4 separate regions of the Homo sapiens genome follow, and regions 2, 3 and 4 are each linked to region 1. The links come from fine-mapping of genetic effects on gene expression. A gene starts in region 1. Each other region holds a variant in brackets. All regions are shown on one strand. Distances are between the middles of the regions.

What was found. PIP is the estimated chance that this variant, and not a neighbour inherited with it, causes the effect.
Region 2: its variant is fine-mapped to the expression of NAALAD2 in aorta (GTEx, PIP 0.97).
Region 3: its variant is fine-mapped to the expression of NAALAD2 in lung (TOPMed, PIP above 0.99). The same link has a PIP of 0.9 or more in testis.
Region 4: its variant is fine-mapped to the expression of NAALAD2 in lung (TOPMed, PIP above 0.99).

Annotation. Positions count from the first base shown.
Region 1 is chr11:90,131,510-90,137,422 of GRCh38, reverse strand. NAALAD2 (N-acetylated alpha-linked acidic dipeptidase 2) reads right to left here and starts at 2,760. Exons shown (of 19, transcript NM_005467.4): 1 at 2,583-2,760; 2 at 1,753-1,864. The coding sequence starts at 2,664. RefSeq lists an enhancer at 2,153-2,856.
Region 2 is chr11:90,228,980-90,234,892 of GRCh38, reverse strand. The region is part of intron 1 of LOC124902812 (a long non-coding RNA gene); the gene reads right to left. Among named protein-coding and RNA genes, the nearest start is that of CHORDC1, 8.9 kb to the right of the region's middle. The variant C/A (reference allele first, on the strand shown) is at 3,373.
Region 3 is chr11:90,177,551-90,183,463 of GRCh38, reverse strand. NAALAD2 (N-acetylated alpha-linked acidic dipeptidase 2) reads right to left here. Exons shown (of 19, transcript NM_005467.4): 16 at 5,347-5,611; 17 at 1,763-1,844; 18 at 456-548. Among named protein-coding and RNA genes, the nearest start is that of CHORDC1, 43 kb to the left of the region's middle. The variant T/C (reference allele first, on the strand shown) is at 2,903.
Region 4 is chr11:90,105,473-90,111,385 of GRCh38, reverse strand. No RefSeq gene overlaps it. Among named protein-coding and RNA genes, the nearest start is that of UBTFL1, 22 kb to the right of the region's middle. The variant A/T (reference allele first, on the strand shown) is at 3,432.

The sequences.
Region 1 (5,913 bases):
AGTAGTTAGGATATCTATCACCTCAAACATTTATCATTTCTTTGAGTTTGGAACATTTCAAATCCACTCTAGTTATTTTGAAATATACAATAAATTATTGTTAACTATAGTTGCCCTATTGTGCTATGTAATACTAGATCTTATTCCTTCTATCTAACTGTATTTTTGTACCCATTGAACCAACCCCTCAGTATTGTCTGCCCTCCTCACTACCCTTCTAGTTTCTGGTAACCATCATTCTATTCTCTGTCTCCATGAGATCAATTTTTTTTTAGCTCCCACATATGAGTTAGATCATGCAATATGTGTCTTTCTGTGCCTGGCTTATTTCACTTAATATAATGACATTTAGTTCCATTCATTTTGCTACAAATGATAGGATTTCTTTCTTTTTTATGCTGAGTAATAATCCATCCTGTATATACACCATAATATTTGTTGATGGAAGTTGATCATCAGGTTGATTTGGTATCTTGGCTATTGTGAATATTGCTGTGGTAAATATCAGAGTGCACATATCTCTTTGGAATACTGATTTCCTTATTTTGAGGTAGAAATGCAAAATGATGCAACCACTTTTCACTTATCTTAGGCATTTTCTTAAAAAGTTAAACTTATGCTTATCATCAAACTCAACCATTTCAAGAGAAATAAACCACATATCCACAGAAAGACTTGTAAACATCTGTTCATAGCAGCTTTATTCACAATAGTCAAAAACTATAATCAACCCAAATTTCCATCAATTATACATTGCAATATATCCATACAATGGAATTCTAGTCTGCAATAAAAATAATGAACTACTAATGCATGCAACAATCTAGATGAATCTCAAAATCATTATTCTGAGTAAAAGAAGCTAGATACAAAAGAACATATACTATATGATTCCATTTAAATAAGATTCTAGAAAATGCAAATGAATCTCCAGTGATATAAAATTGGTTAGTGATTGCCCAGTGACAGAGATGGAGGGGGATGGGGAATAAACTGCAAAGGGCATAATGGAATATTTTTGTAGCATGATGGAGGAGGTGGTTTGTTCAGCATAGCATACGTCTGTCATAACTCTCAAATTGTAGGCTTTATAGGGATGCAGTTTATTTTATGTAAATTATACTTCACTAAAGCTGATTTTAAAAAATAACACCCATTTGAAAGAGTCTGAATACAGAAATAAATACCATGGCCATTGTTCTTAAGGAGTTTATGATCACTCCCCCAATTTCCACTGTTTTTCATGGTTAGAAGCTGGAGGAATGGCAATGATTCTTTTTGGTTTCATTTTGTCTTATTTGTAAAAAACAAATTTATACCTGCAAGATGGGATAAAGGTTTAACTTTTGGCAGACAGAATCAGACACTTTGATCACTTTTCCACTAAATCACTTAGTCAACCATCATCTAACTTTCCCTGACAGAATATGGTATCTAAGAAAATTGCTGATTAAAACCCAGGCACTGATGAACAAAGAATAACATTCAGTTAGATCCAAAGTTACATGAAGTTGAAACATCTCTCAATAAGCCAACCAGATACTTTTTGTTACATAAAGTTAGGGAAGAAAGACCTACTTTTTCACCCCAAGACTGGTGTAAAGAGACATTAAAAAAAAAAAAAAAGTTGATGACTAATATGTAATTTCACACAGAGAAGACTGTCCTCATGCATATAACCAGGTATAATATGCTTCTCACTGTGATATTTTAAACATGATTTTTAAGATCAAATACGTAAAATAAACTTACCGAAGAAATGATTTGATGTTTTCAGCTTTCATTTCGGATACCAGTTTCCACCGTATACTTTGATGATAGCGCACAGAAGTGGTCGTTTCTTTGAGAGGCTTAATAAACCAGCCTAAGGAAAAAAAATACACAAACATGCACACATACACACAAAATCACTTTGACTTTATTAAAACTAGAAGCCACCCCTCTGTCCTTCCCCCCAAAAAGCCTTTATCTGACAAGTAGATCATGGTGAGCTTTAAAAAATAATGTTTATATTAAATGCAGAAAACCTGTAAATTCTGATATGTAATATAATTTTTAGATGCTTAAAAGGAGTTTTATTTAAGAGAAGCTCTTTCATTTTCTCACGTTATGCATGAAGGCATGGCTTTTGTTGTTCTTCCCTGGATCTCTAGTCCCTGACACATAGGGAACATTCCACAAATATTTATTTACGTATAGAGCAGGGTTTTGTTTTGCTTTGTTTCGTTTTGCTTTGTTTTTAATGCTGCCCGTATTAGTTGAAAGTTTTGACTCACTAATGTTGCTTGGAAATAAAACGATTTTTTTTCATCCCTGCAGACAGTGACAGCTGTAGGTTGTCTTTAGTGAACTCAGTGAACATTTAATAAATTTGAATTTCAAGCACACTTTATCTATTAGCAAGCCCAAAATACATTCCATCTGGTTTCTAGTTTTGCTGAAATGTGCAGAGTTTATCATATCTAGCCCAGCCGGCCAGGGCTAGCGCACAGCCCAATCCCTTCCAGCTCCAGGATTTCTCCCTTTATCTCTGCAGAGAATCACGAGCCCCGGAGTCGGGGTAGAGTGTTTTGTTCACTTACCCACCATAAATCCCATCAGGAAAGATGCCAGCGCAGCAGCCAAGCACATCCAAAGGTACAGACGGCCCCTGGATTCCGCCATGGCTTCTTGAGGACCGAGCTTGGGGCGCCTGCTACATTCGCGAGCTTCGGGGCTGCAGAGAAACAGAGAGCGCGCTGGCAGGAGGCTGTGAGCTCTGGGTGGCCTCCGCTGACCTTCGCAAGGCCACGCCTCCGCCCTACCCGCTGGGGACCTGTGGTCCCCAGGGGCCCTCGATGGGGGAAAGGAAGCCCTGCAGAGGGAGGAGACATTCTTCCTGTTGGCGGGCAACTTCCATTCTGTGGATCCCGCAGTAACCCGGACATAGTAGGTGGCGGGAGCTGCTGAAAACGTCCCTAATTTTTTCCTAAAGAACTCTACTGCTGTTTGCCATGCCCATCCCCCAAAATGCCCAGTTTCGGCTCAGAAGTGAATTTAAGTATTGCTTTTCCTGATCTATTGGTTATTCTTCTTCCAGATTCTCTGCTGTAATTTCCCACTCGTCAGACTCGGAAATGATTTCTGGTCCTGGGTGCTCCGCTGTTAAAGCTGTTAACATCACTAATACCGCAATCACTGTCAGCATCAAAATCGATGGGATTGCGTTTTTTTGTTCCCCTTTACTTAAACAAAACTCCACATTTCTGTAATTCTGTTTCCACTCATTTAACTGAGGTTTTTACCTACCTCACTGGAATGTTTTAGGTTCACATTAGTAAAAGTAATCACTGAAAGGACCTTGCACTGCCAGTAGTTACTGAGAGTCTGTTCTTAATGCTAAAGCTCAGACACCAATTTCCCAAAATATGGTGCTTTGACATGCTAAACCGAAGAAGCCAGGGGGTCTCTCTGACCATACCCCTCTCTTCCAGCTCCTCTCTCTCAATCCTTTGTCTCTCCCATAGCACAGAATAAAGCTGTTCTCTAAAGTTCCCTTATCTGCCTAAAGTCCAGAACTACTAAAGGCAAAAACAAACAAACAAAAAAAAAAAGAGTTTCTTTCCTGAGTTTTCATTAACCGAACTAATATCTCAGGAAGAAGGACTGCAGTCTGTCAATACAACTGGCAGCCTTCTGTTACAAACTCTCGTCTGCCCTGTAGGGCCAACAGACTTTGTCCCAGGCCATTGCATATTCTTCAAGCCCATTGAATTTCCCTAAAATTCATTTACTACCCTCTTAAAATTATACACACATTCTCATCTTCCTTTCCTCTAAAAAGATGGGTATATTATCATCTGTACCTCATTGGTTATTGGGTAATCATTCTACTACGATTCCCTTATGCTATGTTATTCATAAATTTGTAAGCCTTTTTTTTTTCTAATAGTCTGCCTTTTGTGAGTTGATTTTCCAGCAAAACTTCAGAGGGTGAAGGGGAAGCTTTCCATTGACCCCTACATTAGCAATGGTCCCTGTCATTCCCCTGTCCTCACCATGCTACATTCATGAAGCATTTCTCTTTAAAGATGGGTTTGCAAAATAGTGGCCATTGTAAATAGCCTTCATCCAACCATCTCATCTCAGAGAAAAATTTTAGGAATTTATGATTGGCTTCACGTATCTAACCAAAAGTAGTTTTTTCAGCCAAAGCAAAACTGCTATGTTGATTTCAAAGATGGTAGTATATCTAGGATAAACTTCACAGCATTGTCTGCAGCCCTGATAGCTTTAGGTAATGCACCTTTGCTCCTAACAAGTGACTGGAAGAGTGAAATTTATTTTTCTGGGACATAACTTTTTTTTGTCCTTGTATTTCAATGGCTATCAATTGAACATAATTGTTGATAGGTATGCCTAATAACTTATTTCTTGAAACTTTTGTAGCATACCTGGTACTTAACTTTGAAGCAAACCTCCTTAATGAACTGTTGATTTCTAAATGTTTGCATGCAATTTAAGTCCCAACTAACTTCAGCTTTTTCAGCTACTAGCCTGTTAGACATTCCTTGACTGACTCCTCCAGTGTTTTTTATTTTAGAGAGAAACATCTTTCAAAAAACATTTTCATAACAAAGTGAGTTTGTTCCCCCTTATATGCATACACACAACACCAAATATAGGGAATTAGAATAGAATTATTCAAAAGGTTCAATATCCAGTGAAGTAACTAAACCCCTCAAATATGGCTTAAGAAACATTTTCCAAGAGCACTCAGAATTATTTTTATGTGTGACATTATGAAATAATACTGGGATTTTAATAACTCTCCAGTGTTTAACAGGTGACACACAAAGGTCTCAAACAATATCAAATGTTATTTTTGTACATATAAACATTTTGGGTATTGATTGTGTAATTTGTCAATTTTTAGACTCTTGGCTTTTTCTATTTGCTACCCATTGGACCATTCACTGTTGACTACATAGCCCTCAAGAGGCAGATCAAAATTATCTCCAGGAAAAGATTTACTGAAGAAAGAGAAGGTAGAAACTAATGAATAAAGTTGCTAAGCTATTTATTAAATTTATTTTTTCTTGCTCATTTTGTGTTTTTTATTGCTAATTGAAGTTTGAGTAATAGAATAAATCAATGCATTATTTAACACAGTTTGCCAGTTTGAATAATCTCCCTAAATTAAAATTAGATTAAAGAGTTCCAAGAATGAGCAATGTTACCTCAAATATGACTGTCGTCTCTGTAGGCGGCATCTGCAATCTTGAAAAGCCATTGTAAAAAGCCCAGTTAGCTGGCTCAACAAGTCTTTGGACTTTTGTCAATATAGACACTGCAAGCATTCAAAATTCTATGTTAATTAAGTTTGTAACAGAAGGCTGCTATCAAAAAGTAATTGCTAATTATTACCATCTTGGCAAATACTTGTACTTTGCAAAGCACACTTAACAAAGCAACACTGTTGACGTAGGGCAATCCTTTTCAATTTCTCCATCAAAGCTAATAGTATATAAAAACTTTGAGTATTGAAAACCAGTCTCTCAATGAAGCTATTTGACACATTTGACCTGCTCATGATTCAGTGAGCCTCTAACATAACAAAACTCACCACTTCCTCCATTTAAGTTAAATTGCTCTTATCTAAGCATTTTTTCCTCCTCTTCTCCATCATAGCAGAAGCAGTTTTGTAACCCTGAAGCTCAAGTTCCTTCAAACAGGTTATGGCAATGTTTGAAAACAAAGTGTCATATATGTACTAATAAAGCAGTATATATAAATTTCACTTGCAGAATTAAGCTTTAATTATTAAGCTTTAATAAAAAAGAATAATGTTTAACTTGATGATAAAGTGGTGAGATATTTGTCAAACCCACAGTCTCACCAGGTGCTGTGCCACAAAATTTCAGGTTTTGCTTG
Region 2 (5,913 bases), 97 kb before region 1:
TCCCCAAAAGACTCCTTTCAGGCTATAATCATCTACAGTCCTCAGTAAGGCTTGTGAATAAAACTAACTTTAATTCTTTAAAAGCTTTATTTTTCTTTCTTTAGTCAACAATGTCTTTGGTTTCTCTGGATTTCAGTTTGTCATGCCAGCCCGTGCAGCAGTTTTTAGAAAGCTCACTTTGTTTGTTTATTCATTTAGCTAAACTTAGTAGAGCTTTTCTATCTATGGCAAGCTCAGTCTTAATCCAGTGACCTCAAAGAGGAAAGACTGATTAACAATTCAACTAGGAAGAATTCTTGTCTTTAAAATTTTAGTTGATATATAAGCTTCTTTGCTTCTACACCTATGCAATGTCTTTAAAAATATAATCTTATGATGTATTTCTTTTTATAGTTGTTGAAATAGAAGAAAAAATAGCTTGCCACTACCTACTATATTTTAATACAAAATAAAATTCTCTATGATCCTATCTTGCTTCTTTTTTTTGGAGTGGATCATTCTACTTAATCTGTCAAAGGCTAAGGGGTGTTCTAATATAACCCATTATTATTGTATTTCTATCTGTGTTATATATTTATACACATTTTTGGCTCATTTTGAATATTATATTATTGAGTATATAACGTTTAATGAGACGGTAAAACATTTTTATCTTGGCTACTGATAGTATAATGCTGCTCTTTTCAGGCTTCCATTGTCAATTGCTACATACTCTGTCTTTTCTCTACAGCTTCTGCAAGGTCTCTTTTGCTTTCGCTACTTTACAATTTTAAAAATATTGTAATTTTTTTCTTTCTGCTTGAGATTCATTGAGATTCCTGACTCTGTACTTACTCATCTATCATTTCTGGAAAATTCTTACCAATTATCTTCTTACATACTATCTCTATTTTACTCTGCCCTGTTCCTTCTCTGATTACACAAATATCTGACTTTCTTAATCTCCTCTTGTATTTACCTTTTTTCTGTATTTTCAATTTCTTTTTCTCTCTCTTTTGCATTCTATGTATTTTTTTCAGTTCTATATTCCAGTTCAAAAATCCTTCTTTTGGGTGGGTCTATCAGCTATTAAGCTTATTCATAAACTTTTAACTATATATATTTTTATTTCTGGCTGTTTCTGATTCTTTTTCTTTTTCATTTTTGAAGTTTGTTGTTCTTACTTACGTTGTCAGTCCTTTTTATTTCTTTAAATCTATTGTATTTGATAAATTTCAACCCTTTAGCAGTTTAATTCCACTATTGTTTTGTTAGCTTTCATTCATGGTATTTTATACTTTTTTTTTTTTTCATTGAGAGCTCACATTTCCTGCAACTTTATCTATTGGTATCTTTTGAGGCCTAGCTTGAAGTAGGTGCATGTAGAGAGAATGTATATTGCTTTTATCAGGCAATTTAAAAAGAGCACTTCACACTAAATTTTTACTTTAGAGTTTTAAAAATATTCTTAACAATCTCTAGAGTGTGAATCTTGACTACCAACCTGAGTAAAGGTTGGCTTTTTTCCTTCTTTACTTATACCTGAGATGTGAAGCAAGCAATGCTCCTGGTAGTCTTCTATAGAGGATGAAGGAAAAGAAAGAGAAAGAGCAATGTAGGTTTATATTTCATTTTTATAGCAGGGATATAGCCCTTTGCTTTCCCAGCTTAATAAAGGAAGGGAGGGCAAATTTTCTCAACAGTTCCACCTCAGACAGATCCAGGAATGTTTCTCTTTTCTCTTGCTCTTGGTGACAACTTGAGCACAAGATCATTTCAAGATGACAGCCATCCTCAATGTTTCAGCTTTGGAGCTAAAGATTGCTCTTTCTCATAGTTTTTGTCCCCTGAGTATTTCTGATGTTCTTGCATTGGTGAATGTATAAAAAGTTTTAAAGAATTGTATCCCATGTTTTAAATTGTTTTCCATGGGACAGTTGATCAGGGTACCTAGTCTGCAAAAGTACTGAATGCAGAAGCTAGCAACATATATGACATGACAGTTTTGAAAAAGTCCACAAGTATCCAAAGAGGAAACACTGATAACCTATAAACAAAATTTACTCTGGCTTCCAGCTTCTCTTTTGCAATACCAAACATCCGAAAATAGCAGTTATACCTAAAGAAGAATTTTGACAGAAAGTGATTTTGACCCAAAATTTGATGTCCAGGTAAGTTGTCATTCAAAAGAGACACCTTAGAACTAAAAGAATTCAGAAACAACATCACTCTAAAGTTAAGAAACTGATATGAGTAAATTATGGTATGTTGACAGCGGTTATTAAAGCAAATTAAACATATGACTAAGTAGAAATATTGCAGATATGGTCACAAAACTGAATATAAATTACAAAAATTATTTCCAAAGGGGATATATAACATGAAAGCTATTAGTTTAATATTAATAATGTGATTTCAATTCTCCTCATTAATAAAATCTAAAAAGAGGAAAGAGCTATCAGGAGAAATATAACATGAATTTCTATTAATTAACCTGTAACTGGGAAACCAGTATTATATGCATTAATTAAATTTAATCCTCATGGAAACTCAAACAGGTATTAATTTTCTCTTGCTCCTGTACTAAATTACCTAAATTATAGTGGCTTGAAAACAGACAAATGTATTATTTTACAACTCTGTATGTCAGAAGTCCAACACAGGTCTCACTAGGCTAAAACAAATGTGTCAAAAGGACTATGTTCCTTTTTGGAAGTTAGAGAGGAAAGTGTGTTTCCTTCCCTTTCTAGCTTCTAGAGGCTACCCACCATTATTGGCTTGTAAACTGCTTTCTCCATATTCAAAGTGAGCAACAGTGAGTCGAGTCCTTCTCACATCACATCACCCTAACCTCTTCTTGTATAGCCTCTCCTACTTTTTAGGAAGCTTGAGATTACATTGAGCCCATTTGGATGTCCAGGAAAATCTCTATTTTAATGTCTACTAATTAGCAATCTTAATTCTATCTGCAACCTTACATCCCCTTTGCCATGTAACATAATATTCAGAGTTCTAGGAATTAAGGTATACAAATTCTTGGGTAAACCTTATTCTACACATCACATCTGGCCCTCTGGCTGCCAGATTAATGTTACTCCAAATGTTTGCTCCATCTCAAGGTCCTCAAAATTTCTGAACCCATTATAGCATCAATTCAAATCCTCAGATCTCATCCAAATCTCATCATCTAAATAATCTAAATTAGGTGTGGGTGAGATTCTGGATATGATCTACCTGGTAGCACAATTTTCTTTATCTATGGACCAATAAAACTAAAGAAGTAGACAATATTGAATTCATTTTACAAATAAGACATCGAAAGTAAAATACCTTTCCTAAAACCACATCCTTATTAAGTGTTGGAGAGTCTAATCTGTTTTCAACTCAGAAGTT[C/A]ATAATATTTTTAATCATTTCACTATCTAGAGAACACAACCTCCTAAATTCTTCATTTTACAACTGGGGAGTTTAGAGGGTATTAATTCACCAGGAAATAAATAAATCAGATATTGGAAAAGGCTTTAAATATTTATATCACTCAGAAGTAGTTTAAGTCAAGGACAGATATGGATAAGACCAAACTGATGGAAACCATTTTCAGTTGCTTTGGAGAACCTTATGATACTGGTATTGTGGTAGGCTAAATAATGCCTCACCCTCACAAGATGCCCACATACTAATACTTGAAATCTATAAATATTATACTTAGTTTTGGAAGTATAATTTTGCAAAATAGACTAGTTGATGATCTTATTCTTTTATGACTTTGACTGTGTCATCCTATTTCTGTTTGGACTACAGTGTTTTGGAAATGAAATCATGTGTTAATCTTACAGAGAATCCCTTATATGTGGAGACCCATTTTTCTCTTACTGCTTTCAAAATTCTCTCAGTATTTTTGGCTTTTGACAATTTTATTATTTTGTATATGTTCATCTCTTTGAGTTTGTCTTACTGGGGGTTCCTAAATTTTTCAGATGTGTACATTAATGTTTTAACTACATTTGAGAAGTTTTTAGTTATTATACCTTCAAGTACTGTTTCTTCCCCTTTTCCCATATTCTCTTCTTCTGTGACTCTAATATGTGTATGCTGGTAAGCATGATACTGTTCAATTAGTCTCTGAGACTTTATGTATCTTTATTTATTCAGTTTTTTTCCTGTTCCTTAGACTAGATGATGTAAACTGACCTATATTCAAATTCTCTTTTTCTACCAGGACTAATCTTCTATTGAATCCTTATAGTAAATTTTTAGTTATTATACTTTTCAATTTGAGAATTTTTACTTTTTATTTCTTCATTAGTAATATTTGCTGAGACATCAGTCTCTTTGTTTTTTAGAATTAGTTTCTTCTATTTCTTTGAACATATTTATAATAATTGATTTAAAGTCTTTACCTATTACGTCCAATATCTACCTCAGGGACAGTTTATATTGCATGCTTTTTTTTCTTCCTGTATATGAGCCATTCTTCTTATTTACAAGACATAATTTTTTATTGAAAACTGGATATTTTATATAATATAATGTGACAACTCTAGAAATCAGATTATCTCCTCCCAGCCTTTCTTTTGATTGCCATTTATTGTTGTTGTTGTTGTTGTTATTATTTATCTCCTGGACTAATTCTGTAAACTCTTTATTCCCTGTTATTTGTGGCCACTGAGTCCTCTGTACAGTTAGCTTTGTAGTTAAGCTCGTGATTGGACAGAGATTTCCTTATATACCCTGAGTGAATAAGCTGTATATTATTTGTTGAGAGGCTCTTTGTATGTATTGACAGGCTCTCAATGTTTTGATAGTTTACAATTCTGCATTAGTCTTCCCTTCCTGCTTCAAAGGACCTAAAGTTCAAGTAGAGATGAGAGGATGGAACTTTCTCAGATCATTCTTTTACATGGACACAGCCCTACTCATGGATGTGGCTTTCTTCACATTCCTTAGGAATATGTCAGTGTTGTTCAAAGATTCTGGTGTTATCTCACTCATAAACTCTTCCATTTACATTTTTATTGGCCAGCTTCTTATTGGCCTCAACTCGTATAGTCTCCTCAGGCAGCTGCCATGTTAAACAATCACTTTTGATTGTTTTCAGCAAATGTCCTAGAAACAAGATTTTTCCCAATCAACAAGCTTTCAGTAAGTCAAAACGATCACAAGCCTTAAAAATTGAGCTTTTCCAAGGAGCTGTCAGATGGGTCAATGCTTAGACAATGCCATTCTGCCTCCTCTTGTAGCTTCTAGAATTCCACTTTACATACCTATTGTTGAGAGGCTGCTGGATTTTATACCTACCATTTAGGTATAAAGAAGAGAATGGAAATAGGGAAATTAAAATGTCACACAATTTGTTGTTCTTACCAATATTTAGCACTTTTGTTGAATAAGGGCTCTTTGGATTATTGCATGCCTTCAGTTAATTTTGAGATTTCTGGAAAAATCACATTAATGGAAAACTCCTTTCAATTATTCCTCTTTGCCCTAAGGATAAAAGCCTTTTAATCATCCTTACAGCTGCCTCTCAGGCTGCCTGTGTTGTTGGGCCTCTGTCTACCTTTCCAGCCTCAGATGGTGTTATAGTTTAGATATTCGCCCCCATCCAAATCTCATGTTGAAATATAATCCCCAGTCTTGAAGGTGAGGCCTGGTGGGAGGTGTTTGGATTATGGGAGTCCATCCTTCATGAATGGCTTGGGCCATTCCCTTGGTGATAGGTGAGCTCTTGCTCTGAGATCTGGTGGTCATTTAAAAGTCTGTGGAACCTCCCCTCCCCAACTCTCTCTCTCTTTCCCTGCTTTTGCCATGTGAAGTGCAAGCTCCTGCTTTGCCTTCTACCATGAGTAAAACTTCCTGAAGCCTCACCAGAAATTACGCTTCCTGTAAAGCTTGCAGAACCATAAGCAAATTAAATCTTTTCTTATAAATTACCTAGTC
Region 3 (5,913 bases), 46 kb before region 1:
GAAAATAGATGTTAAATCTTTATGAAGAAAACTTTCTAATAATTAGACCTTTCATAAAGTGAAATGAGCCTCCTCATGAAGTAGTAAGCTTCTCATCACTAAAAGATTCTGAGACTGGATAACTATTTATCTGAGATTCTATAAAAAGGATTATGTAGAAGGTTGAACTAGATAAGCTCTAAAATTCCCTTTAAGATTCTACAGTTTGAAGATTTTGTTAGAAAGAGTTCTTTTTTAACTAGCCTTTACCATTTTCCCTCACAGCAAAGCAATAAACAATATGAAATTTATTTTTCTAATATGTATTATACCTATTATTAAATGTACAATCTTACCCAAATTCCCTAGAGTGTACATATTTGCCTTTCACCCATCTAATGGCATTAGTTTAAAGCCAACTTTAGGTATGCTGGTTTTGGTCACAGTGATGTATTTGGCGCCTGTTGTTTCCTTACCTATAGAACAGCTTTCCTGGTAAACCAAGAGGATCGATGAATGCTCTTTCCAGGAGCATCAGTTGGTCATTCATCATTCTCACTGCAATGGGACTTCGAGAAGAACATATACATAATTATAACGCAAACCGCAGAATCATGCTTCAAAAATAATATTAAATAAAAACAAGGCTTGGGAAAATATATTTCTAAAATTGATCAATTTTTAACAAAATGAATATTAACACAGTAATGCTTTACATGGTGAGCCACAAACAGCAGAGTCATCTTTCTAATATTTACAGTCAGCAGAGAGACCTATTGGAAAATCGTTTGTTATATTTTTTTACATCACACACCAATCAAAAGGGACTCAAAGACATTCTATACTTCTAGGAGGACAGCCAGGCCTCCTGGAAAGGCAGACAAAGTGAGCTATCAAGTTATTCCTGATAAGTCATTCGGTTCTACTGCTGAAAAAAGGAGCAGATAACAGGCTGGACAACAAAGAGTGAATGAAGGTTTCAGAAGCCTGTAAGGAGGGTAAGAGATAGCTGCACATAATGGATAGGGAATCCCTTGTCACACTCAGACTATCCCTTTGGGGAGTTGAGTAAGTTCCCTGGGCTCCCCTACAATCCAAAGGAGAATGAGGTCCCTTAAAACTACTGATAATAGCTTTCTTCCAATATGGGAAGTAGCAAAGTTTATTCTGATTACATCTGAAAAAATAAATGTGACATGGACACATCTGTGGATAAATTTATGCTTGTTACATGGTATTTACTTTGAATGTACTTTGAAACTATTTTCAATGTGAAAGTGGCAAGAAATTAAATAAAATGCAAAAAAAATTATCCATGAAAAAAGAATTTCTAAACTGGTACACAGGAGTACTGAACAAAGAACTAGTAAAATATATTACAAACGCACTTAAACTCATAAAGCTATGAATTTACAGCTGTAGTCAGAATTTTCATCATGCAGACTCCTAATGACAGGTACCTTTGGCCCTTGTCTCTTTGGGATGAGTTTTTAGTCTACCATTCAGAGCAGTGCTCCCCAAACTTTACTGTTAGTATAAATCATTGAAGGGCGGGGTGGGGGTGGTAGTTAAAATGCAAAATTCTAATTCAGCATGTCTTGGTTGGTGTCTGATATTTTGCCTTTCTAACAAGTTCTCAGGTACTACTGCTATTGCTGATTTGCAGACTATAATTTGAATAGTAGTGATTTAGAGGTTAATGCTAATATGAGTGAAACAGTTCATTCTAGTAACCAGATTGCTTTTTTTTTTTTTTTTAAAAAAAAAGGGATTTGAAACTTACTTGTTAAGATCAACTTGTATAAGTCGTTTATGAAAATCTGAAGCAGCCTCTGAGAAGTTTTTCACAGCAGAAAATAAGGAGTCTTTTTTAAAAATAGAAAAGAAGAAGAGAAATTAGCTCATATTTCAGAGGTTCGCTTTCCCACCCTCCCCATTCCAGATTGATATGACCACATAGATGTCGAAGCCATTTTTCTACTGAGTCTTCTTGCAGATCCATGAAAATTAGTAGAAAATATAACAAAGTAATATTGTTTGAAAACAAAAAATGGTAACATTGTTTCTTAAAGGAAATGACTTTCAAAAATCTAGGACACAAATAATTCCTTAACCCATAGTTTACCAGAAACCCAGAATTCATTTTTTTATTAATTCATTCATTCATTGGGACAACAACTGTATGCTAGACACTGGATACAGCTATGCATAGGATATGATTCTGTAATTATTACAGGGCAAAAAAAAATACCAATTCTTGTTTTCAAATAGTGCATTTAAGATCTTGTTCAACAGGCAACCTGTGACAAACTGATATAACCAGATACTGAGAAAGAGGATCAGATTTGATCTGGTCAAACTCTTCTTTAATTCACAATGCTTCTGAGGAAAGTGATTAGGTTCTCAGTACAGTCATACCTCAGTATCAGTGAGGCCTGGGTACCAGAATCCCCTGCAGATAACCATATTCCATGGAAGCAACTCCCTTATATAAAATGGCATAGTATTTGCCTGTTACCTACACACATCCTCCCCTATACTTTAAGTCATCTCTAGATTACTTATAATGCCTAATACAATGCCTATATATAACTTCATGTGGATTCAATGTAGTGCTCAGAGCACAACAAATTCAAATTCAAGTTTTGCTTTTTTGAAACTTAATGGGTTTTTTTTTCTGAATATTTTTGGCTTGCAGTTGGTTGAATACATGGATGCAGAACTCACCAATATAGAGAGGTGACTATATTATATTTTTATTACAACAATTTATTATTTTCCATATTTTCTACACAGGACTTTAAACATACATTATTGATTTGTTGCTTGCATCAATCCTGTGGTGCAAGCAAATCAGGAGATACGATATTCATTTTATAGATAAAGCACTTACAGCTCAGGATTTCTATTAGGTCACACCTAA[T/C]GGAAAGAATTTCTATTTCTATTACCTAATTTCTATTAGGTCTGACCTAATAGAAATCCTGAGCTCTAAATGCTTTAGCTAGTAAGTGGTACATTCAGTATAAGTATATTCAGTATTTTTAAAAACCTTCTTAGTCCCAGATTTTAGTCCTAGATTTTAGTCCTAGTCTTTTAGTCCTAGATTTTCCTTAACTTTTAATTGTTGTTTTAAGCCAAGTTCAAACCAAAGAATGTAATAAGAGATAGAATAGAAACTATGAGGAAAGAATGCTGAAAACAGAATTTTAAATTTCAAATGCAGGACAGAAGTCAAGATAGATAACTGAAACGTGTCCTGGGATTTAGTAACACATGTCAATGACGACTTTTGCAAGAGCAGTTTTACTAGAGTAGAAAGGACATAAGACAGCACAGTGGATTGGCTAGTGAGAGGTAAAAAACTATAGACAGGGAGTGTAGATTATGTATTCATTCATTCATTCATTCATTCATTCATCAATTATACCTTCATTCCTACACTAACACATTTTCTCAGGAACTGTTTCTGCCTGGCACTAAATGAAGAATTTTGATTGTGAAGAAAGTGGGACACATCAGGCAGAAGAAATGTTTTTGAAATAGAAAAGCTATAAGAATAATTAATCTAATGGATAGTCACCAATAGTAATGGTGATTTTTGAAAGTATGACAGGGAAAGGAATTAACAGATCAAACCAGGCCTCTAAGAAGGTAAGTAGGTAGAAGAATTAACCTTGTCTAAAGAGAGCCCTTCCACTCTAACTGTGTGGTTTCTGTCTCTTAATTGGACCCTGACTTATAAAAACTGATAAAAGATCATTCACCAAAAGGAAATCAGGGAATTTAGGAAGACAACTGGATGCTGAATAGCCACAGAACTACCAATGTCCATTTTGCTGTAGGCTCTGCTTATTTCTCTGGTTTTATCTCTCCTTATTTCCCCCATCACTGCAGAGATACTCCAATTGTATTGATATAAACACATTTTATTTGCTTCATTTTTTTTCTAGACCATAGTATTTGCTATTATTACTAATCCTGTATATAATATTATATAAAGATTACTAATCCTTTATATAATAATATTCAGAAGTCATTACTATTCCATACCCATTTTCTGTGTTTTTATAGTACTCTCTACATAGCCCCATAGTAACCTATTATCTGTATATTGCTTTATTCCCCACATGAGACTTTAAGCTTTCTTAGGACTATGACCATGCCTTGTACACATTTATATCTCCCAGGTAATAACATAGTACTTGGTACACAGTAGAAACTCAGGGCATATTTGATAATTTGGGTATATACTAAAAATAGGTGCCCCCAGAATAATAAAAGACAATGTTTGTAATAAAACAGTAATAGGTAATATTTAATGAGCACTAAGTGCTACCCACCACAGCTTCTATATATTACCAAACTGAATCTCCACAATGATCTTTGAAACATGATATGTTCTTTTTTATCTTTTAATTGTATGAAAGCTAACACATAGAGAAGTTAAGTAACTTTCCCAAGGTCACATAACGAAGAACTGGTAAAGCTAGTATCTGAACCAGGCAAACCACTTCCAAACTCAATCCTCAATGCTACTACATACACTGCATTATGAGTCATCCTTGCTGTATAGGAGATGCACAATGCAGAAGAGCAACCACTAAACAGTCATTAATAAAAGGAAAGTATACTTATAACCATGGAAAAAATGTTTCATATAGACAAACACTAAAAGATATATGCAGTAATAATCATTTTGTTGACAATAATTAAAAATACGTATGTAATAGTATTTGTGGCTTTCTCAATCTTTTGCAAATAATGTTACATTTTTCTAATATTGTTTCTATAACAGTAAATTTTTTTTTTTTTTTGAGAAGGAGCCTTGCTCTGTCGCCCAGGCTGGAGTGCAGTGGCGCGATCTCAGCTCACTGCAAGCTCTGCCTCCCAGGTTCACGCCATTCTCCTGCCTCAGCCTCCCGAGTAGCTGAGACTACAGGCGCCCACCACCATGCCCAGCTAGTTTTTTGTATTTTCAGTAGAGACGCGGTTTCACCATAATAGCCAGAATGGTCTCGATCTCCTGACCTCATCATCTGCCCGCCTCAGCCTCCCAAAGTGCTGGGATTACAGGCGTGAGCCACCGCACCCAGCCAGTAAAAATGTTTTTAAAGGCCATAATACAAGAAAAATGTTTACCATCCCAATGTTTGTGGTAATAACTCAGCCATAATGGATTCATTCTATACATGCCAGATTAAATCAGATTCTTTAATAGGTGTTTGTTTTAAGTTTTTGTGTAGAAGTCAAAATAAGTAAGGCAAATATGTATTCTAGGATGAAACAATATGCATTGATCATCATAGGAGATAATATCTTAAAGCTCTAACTTAAAGACTGTAAAATATCTGCCCAACTATTTCTTACCAAATGATACTCCATGGTCTGTCAATTGTTGATCATGTTTCTTAGATAGATTATAGATACTTGCTGCATAGTTTTTCAAAGCTTCTGCATAGTCTTGAATATTAAAAGGAATGATTTTAGAATCCACAAGCTCATATACCAGTGCTCCTCGTAATTGAGCCACAGAAAGTTGTTTTTTAAATGTGGGGTCATAAAATTTCTCTACCAATTCAAATGTCTCATAAATTGTGTGGTACACTGGGTAGCTGCTGTACTTATCTGTTTTCTGAAAAAAAAATGGAGAGGCAAGTATAAATAAACATTAAATATTCAAGTTATAATATTTTTATGTAAGCATAAAAATAACTATAGAAAAAATAACAACCAGCCAGTCATGGTGGCTCACATCTGTAATCCTAGCACTTTGGGAAGCCAAGGCAGGTGGATTGCCTGAGCTCAGGAGTTCAAGACCAGCCTGGGCAACATGGAGAAACCCTGTCTCTACTAAAAATACAAAAAAAAAAAAAAAAAAAAAAAAAAAAAAAAAAAAAACAAGAAAAAGAAAAAATACAACCATATAACACCCTG
Region 4 (5,913 bases), 26 kb after region 1:
GTTGATTTGAACCATTACCAGTTCCTGGTTCTGCACAGGTTGTTGAAGGCAGGACTTCTCTCCTTCAGTGGAAACTCCACCTGCTCACAATCAACCATCCTTTCCTGCAGCCTTGAGACACTACTCAGTGCAGCACCCCTCCCAGTCTAGAATAAGCACACTCATCATCAATCTCTCTCATTTTCTGTCTTATCTCCATTCCATCTACATACATTTTTTGTTTGTTTTTGCCAATGTTTTTAAATAAGCAACTGTACAAGCACAACAATGACAACAAAAACCTTCCTCTCCCCAGTGTCGTAGTGAGCAAGGAATATATTTAACTTCAAATAAAAGACAAAAACAAATGCTGGATAAAGCTGACAGAAAGAAATGCAACTGTAGGTGCTCTGGCAATATAGAAATGATACAACTAAGAAAAATAGAAGAAAAGGAAAAAGAAGGTATTCTGCAGAATGATTTTACTGACTGCTCGTCTGTAATGCCTGGGAGTCAAAGGATACTGTTTATAGAAATGTAGGCATACTTAATGGCATCAGGGGAAACAAAGTTAATATTATTATATCAAATTGGGAGATGAAAGATCACATAGGGAAGACAAGAAAGAGTTAATACCATTGTTCTTAGTTTAGAGACATTAGCTACTGTCTAAAGAAAGAGATGATTTTATGAAGTTACATAAGGTAGCCATCAGAATAAAAATTTAACTCTTCCAAATATCACAACATCAAAACAAAATCAATAAAAACAAACAAGGCAGCAAAAGAAGATACGTGCATATAGATCATAGCATAACATGCTGTAACCAAAATATAACCAAACAGAATTTACCAATAAAAGTAAGTGGGCTTGACTCTCTTATTAGAGGAAAAAAATATTGTCAGATTAAATCAAAAAGGAAAACTCAGTTCTATGCTGGATATAACATAAAGTGTTTCAGAAAGTTTAAAAATAAAAGTACAGGCAATGAATAAAAGGATCTTCATGCGTTACAGAGTATAAAACAGTGAGTAAACACATCATACGTTTTCTCTTTTTACACTTAAATGGCTGGAGATGTTACACCACTAGTATGAATTTACTTCAGATATGTAACGGATACACTTTTATGTGATTAGAAACAGAAATGATAACAGTTAAGGATAAAACAACATCTGCATTGACGCTAGGAAGAAAGAGCCATTGTTGGGTACATAGTGATCACATTACCATGGAGCAATCTGTTCCCAACTGAAATTTCCTTGCCCTTCTACTGAAATCGTGTACGATTCTGCAAACATAATGTTTACTTCCCACAAATCAGCCATTAGCTCTGCTATTGTTGTCCACACAGAATAAGCATCAGACCTAGATTTAGCTGTTGTATCATTAAGAGTCTTATTTGGCCCTTTCCAGAGGCTGTTATTTCTATTATATTTTGGATAATTTGTCTATTTCCAGACAAATAATTTTTCCAGAATGTGATGAGTAGATACACTTTGATCCATATGAAAAGACCCTTTGGTAGAGATCCAGGGATTGAGTTTATTTTTAATTACTATAGCATCTTGGTCAGGTTGAGAAACAGATCACCTTTATAATTCCCTGGCATGTGAGCAGGGCTAGACTTAGTGTGAAAATGCTTGAAAGTTTATAGTTTTTTAGAAATTTTATTTACTTTGTGTCTCTTTGTCAAAATAAAATTAATGCTGAAAAGCTATATTAAATGAATTTCTTTGAGATGGTCTCTTCCCCCTTCTTCTAATGAGAGGATATCCACAGATATGTCAGGAGCTTGCTTTACCTAGAAACGTGTTGAGGGCCACAGGTTTGGGTTCACCTAGGAACATTTAGGGACACCTTCCCAAGTTGTTGTTGAAGAGTGGGGTAAATGTAAGATAGAATTAGGCTCACAGAGGCCTGATGAGAGCATCATGTCACCCCAGAAACACAGCATATACCTAGGAGAACTGTTCTCAGTATCAATGTCTTAAGCACTGTAAGATTGACTATAGACCAAGACAGTAACTACATATATGTATAGTTATATATATTAACTATATATATACTTAATAAAATCAGTTAATATATACACATATATTTATTTATTTATTAACTTATTTTTATTTTTATCTTGAGACAGCGTCTTGCTCTGTCACCTAGGCTGGAGTGCAGTAGTGCAATTACGGCTCACTGCAGCCTTGACCTCTGGGGCTGAAGCTCTCTTCCTGCCTCAGCCTCCTAAAGTGCTAGGATTACAGGTGTGAGCCACCTTACCTGGCCCAGGGCAATAACTATGCAATGCTTATATAATTTGGAGCAAAAAAATATTTGAAATATGTATGCATTGCTTTTTAACCTTTTCTATTGATTTACTTTATTAAATACTGAATAGAAACAATATATTTATAAAATATTTATAATATATATATAGAATAAGCACACAATGAACACTTGTGTCTCCAGTCTTGGTTTAAGAAATTAAGCCAAAAGTAATCATAAGTGCTTATGATTACTTTTGAAGTCACCTGTACAACTTTTGCTGACTACATCCCCTTCTTCAACACTCTAATGATGGCCACTGTGAGCACTGTGTATATTGAATTGTGTTTTATTTTAATACTGTGTGCACTACATTGTTTTTCCTAGCTGCATGCTATTGCATTTAGTGAGCATAATGAATTATATCAATATAATTCACTTTTGTCATTTCATTGTTTCAGCTTTTCTGTACTAATTATTGCCAATATATTTCTACTGGCATAAAAACAGACACACAGGACAATGGAGCAGAATGGAGATCTCAGACATAAATCTACACATTTACAAACAACTCATCTCTGACAAAGGCATCAAGAACATACACTGGGCAAAGAACAGTCTTTTCAATAAATAATCCTGGGAAAACTGAATAACTAAATGAAGAAGGATAAAATTAAACCCCTCTTACCATATACAAAAATCAAATCGAATAAAAATAGATTAAAGACTTGAATCTAAGACCTGAAACTATGAAGTTACTAAAAGAAAGCATAGGAGAAATGCTCCAGGACATTGGTCCGGGCAGATTTTTTTGCGTAAGACCTCAGAAGCACAGGCAACAAAGGCAAAAATAGACAATGGGATTATATCAAGCTAAAAAGCCTCAAGCAAAGGAAATAATCAACAAAGTGAAGTGCCAACCACAGAATGGGACAAAATATTTTCAAACTATCCATCTGATAAAGGAGTAACAACTGCAATATATAAAAAGCTCAAACAACTCAATAATAATCAAAAAATCTGATTGAAAAATGGGCTACTGAAGAGGCTGAGGTAGGAGGATTTCTTAATCCCAGGAGTTTGAGGTTACAGTGAGCTATGATTAAGCCACTGCCCTTTATCTTGGGTGACACAGCAAGACCTTGCTTCTAAAAAAATTGTTAAAAATATATAAATAGATACAATTTTTT[A/T]AAAAAATGGGCAAAAGATCTGAACAGATACTTCTCAAAAGAAGACATTCAAAAGGCCAATAGGAAGATGAAAAAATGTTCAATATCACTAATCATCAAGCAAATGCAAATCAAAACCACAATGCAATATCAGCTCATGTTGGTTGAAATGGCTTGTATCAAAAAGACAGGCAATAACAGATGCTGGCAAAGATGTGGAGAAAGGGGAACACTAGTACACTGTTGGTGGGAATTTACATTAATAAAGCCACTATGGAGAACTGTATGGAGGTTCCTCAAAAAAGTAAAACTAGAGCTACCATGTGGTCCAGCAATTTCACTACTGGATATATATCCAAAATAAAGGAAATCAATGTATCAAAGACATCTCTACATGCCCATGTTTATTGCAGCACTATTCACAATAGCCAAAATATGGAATCAACATAAGTGGTCATCAACAAACGAACAGATTTTAAAAGTAATATATATACATCATGGACTACTACTCAGACACAAAGAAGAATGAAATTCTGTCATTTGCAGCAACATAAGTGGTGCTGGCCATTTCGCTTAACGTAATGAACATAGGCCATTATGTTAAATGGAATGAGCTAAGCACAGAAAGGCAAATATCGCATGTTGTCACTCATATGTGGGCGGTGAAAAAGTGGATCTCATGAAGATAGAAAGTAAATTGGTGGTTGCTAGAGGCCAGCAAGGGGAGTGGGAAGAGGAGATGAAGAAAAGCAAACATAAATGTATTTATCACCACTAAACTGGCCTCTAAAAATGTACAGATGGTAAATTATATATATATACATTTTTATCTCAATAAAAAAATTAAAAAAATTCTGTTGTGTGTTTATAGGGCATATGTACAAGACTTTCTCTAGGGTTGTATCAGTTTTCTTTTTTTTTATTATTATACTTTAAGTTTTAGGGTACATGTGCACAACGTGCAGGTTTCTTACATATGTATACATGTACCATGTTGGTGTGCTGCACCCAGTAACTCATCATTTCACATTAGGTATATCTCCTAATGCTATCCCTCCCTCCTCCCTCCATGCCACAACAGGCCCCAGCGTGTGATGTTCCCCTTCCTGTGTCCATGTGTTCTCATTGTTCAATTCCCACCTATGAGTGAGAACGTGCGGTGTTTGGTTTTTTGTCCTTGTGATAGTTTGCTGAGAATGATGGTTTCCAGTTTCATCCATGTCCCTACAAAGGACATGAATTCATCATTTTTTATGGCAGCATAGTATTCCATGGTGTATATATGCCACATTTTCTTAATCCAGTCTATCGTTATTGGACATTTGGGTTGGTTCCAAGTCTTTACTATTGTGAATAGTGCCGCAATAAACATACGTGTGCATGTGTCTTTATAGCAGCATGATTTATAATCCTTTGGGTATATACCCAGTAATGGGATGGCTGGGTCAAATGGTATTTCTAGTTCTAGATCCCTGAAGAATTGCCACACTGACTTCCACAATGGTTGTGTAAAAATGTTCCTATTTCTCCACATCCTCTCCAGCACCTGTTGTTTCCTGACTTTTTAATGATCTACTCATCTGACAAAGGGCTAATATCCAGAATCTAAAATGAACTCAAACAAATTTACGAGAAAAAAGCAAACAACCCCATTAACAAGTGGGCGAAGGATATGAACAGACACTTCTCAAAAGAAGACATGTATGCAGCCAAAAGACACATGAAAAAATGCTCATCATCACTGGCCATCAGAGAAATGCAAATCAAAACCACAATGAGATACCATCTCACACCAGTTAGAATGGGTTGTATCAGTTTTCTATTCCTGCTATAAAAATTTACTACAAACTTAGTGGCTTAAAAGAACACATTTTTGTAAGCTGTTAGCCTGTTTTAAAACACACACACAAACTTATTATCTTAGAGTTGTTCTGGTTAGAAATCTGGTATGGCTCTCATTGAACTAACATCAAGATGTTGGCAGGCTGCATTTCTTTCTGAAGGCTCTAAGAGAGAATCTGGGTTGTTGGCAGAATTCAGTTCCTTGTGGTTGTAGGATTGAGATCCTCGGTTTCTTCCTGGTTGTAAACTTTGGGTCATTCCCAGCTTCTAAAGGTCACTGGCTTTCCTTGGCTTGTGGCCCCCTTCCACTGTTTTAAAAGCCAGCAATAGCAGGCTACATCTTTCTCATACTGCCATCTGTCTGAATCTCTGCATCCAGAAAATATTCTCTGCTCTCAAGGAATTATGAGATTAGATTGGACTCACCAAGATAATTCAAGGTAATTTCCCCATTTCAATGCCCTTAATGGTAATCACATCTGCAAAGCCCCTTTTAGCATATAAGGTAGCATGTTCACCTTATCTGAAGACTGGGATGTGGCTGTCTTTGGTGGGGGGCAGATGCCTAACCCAAAGATACACAACTTGCAGATATACAACTAGTTCATGGAGATTAAACATTTTCAAATCTACAAGAAAATGTTTTCTAAAATGAGCATCT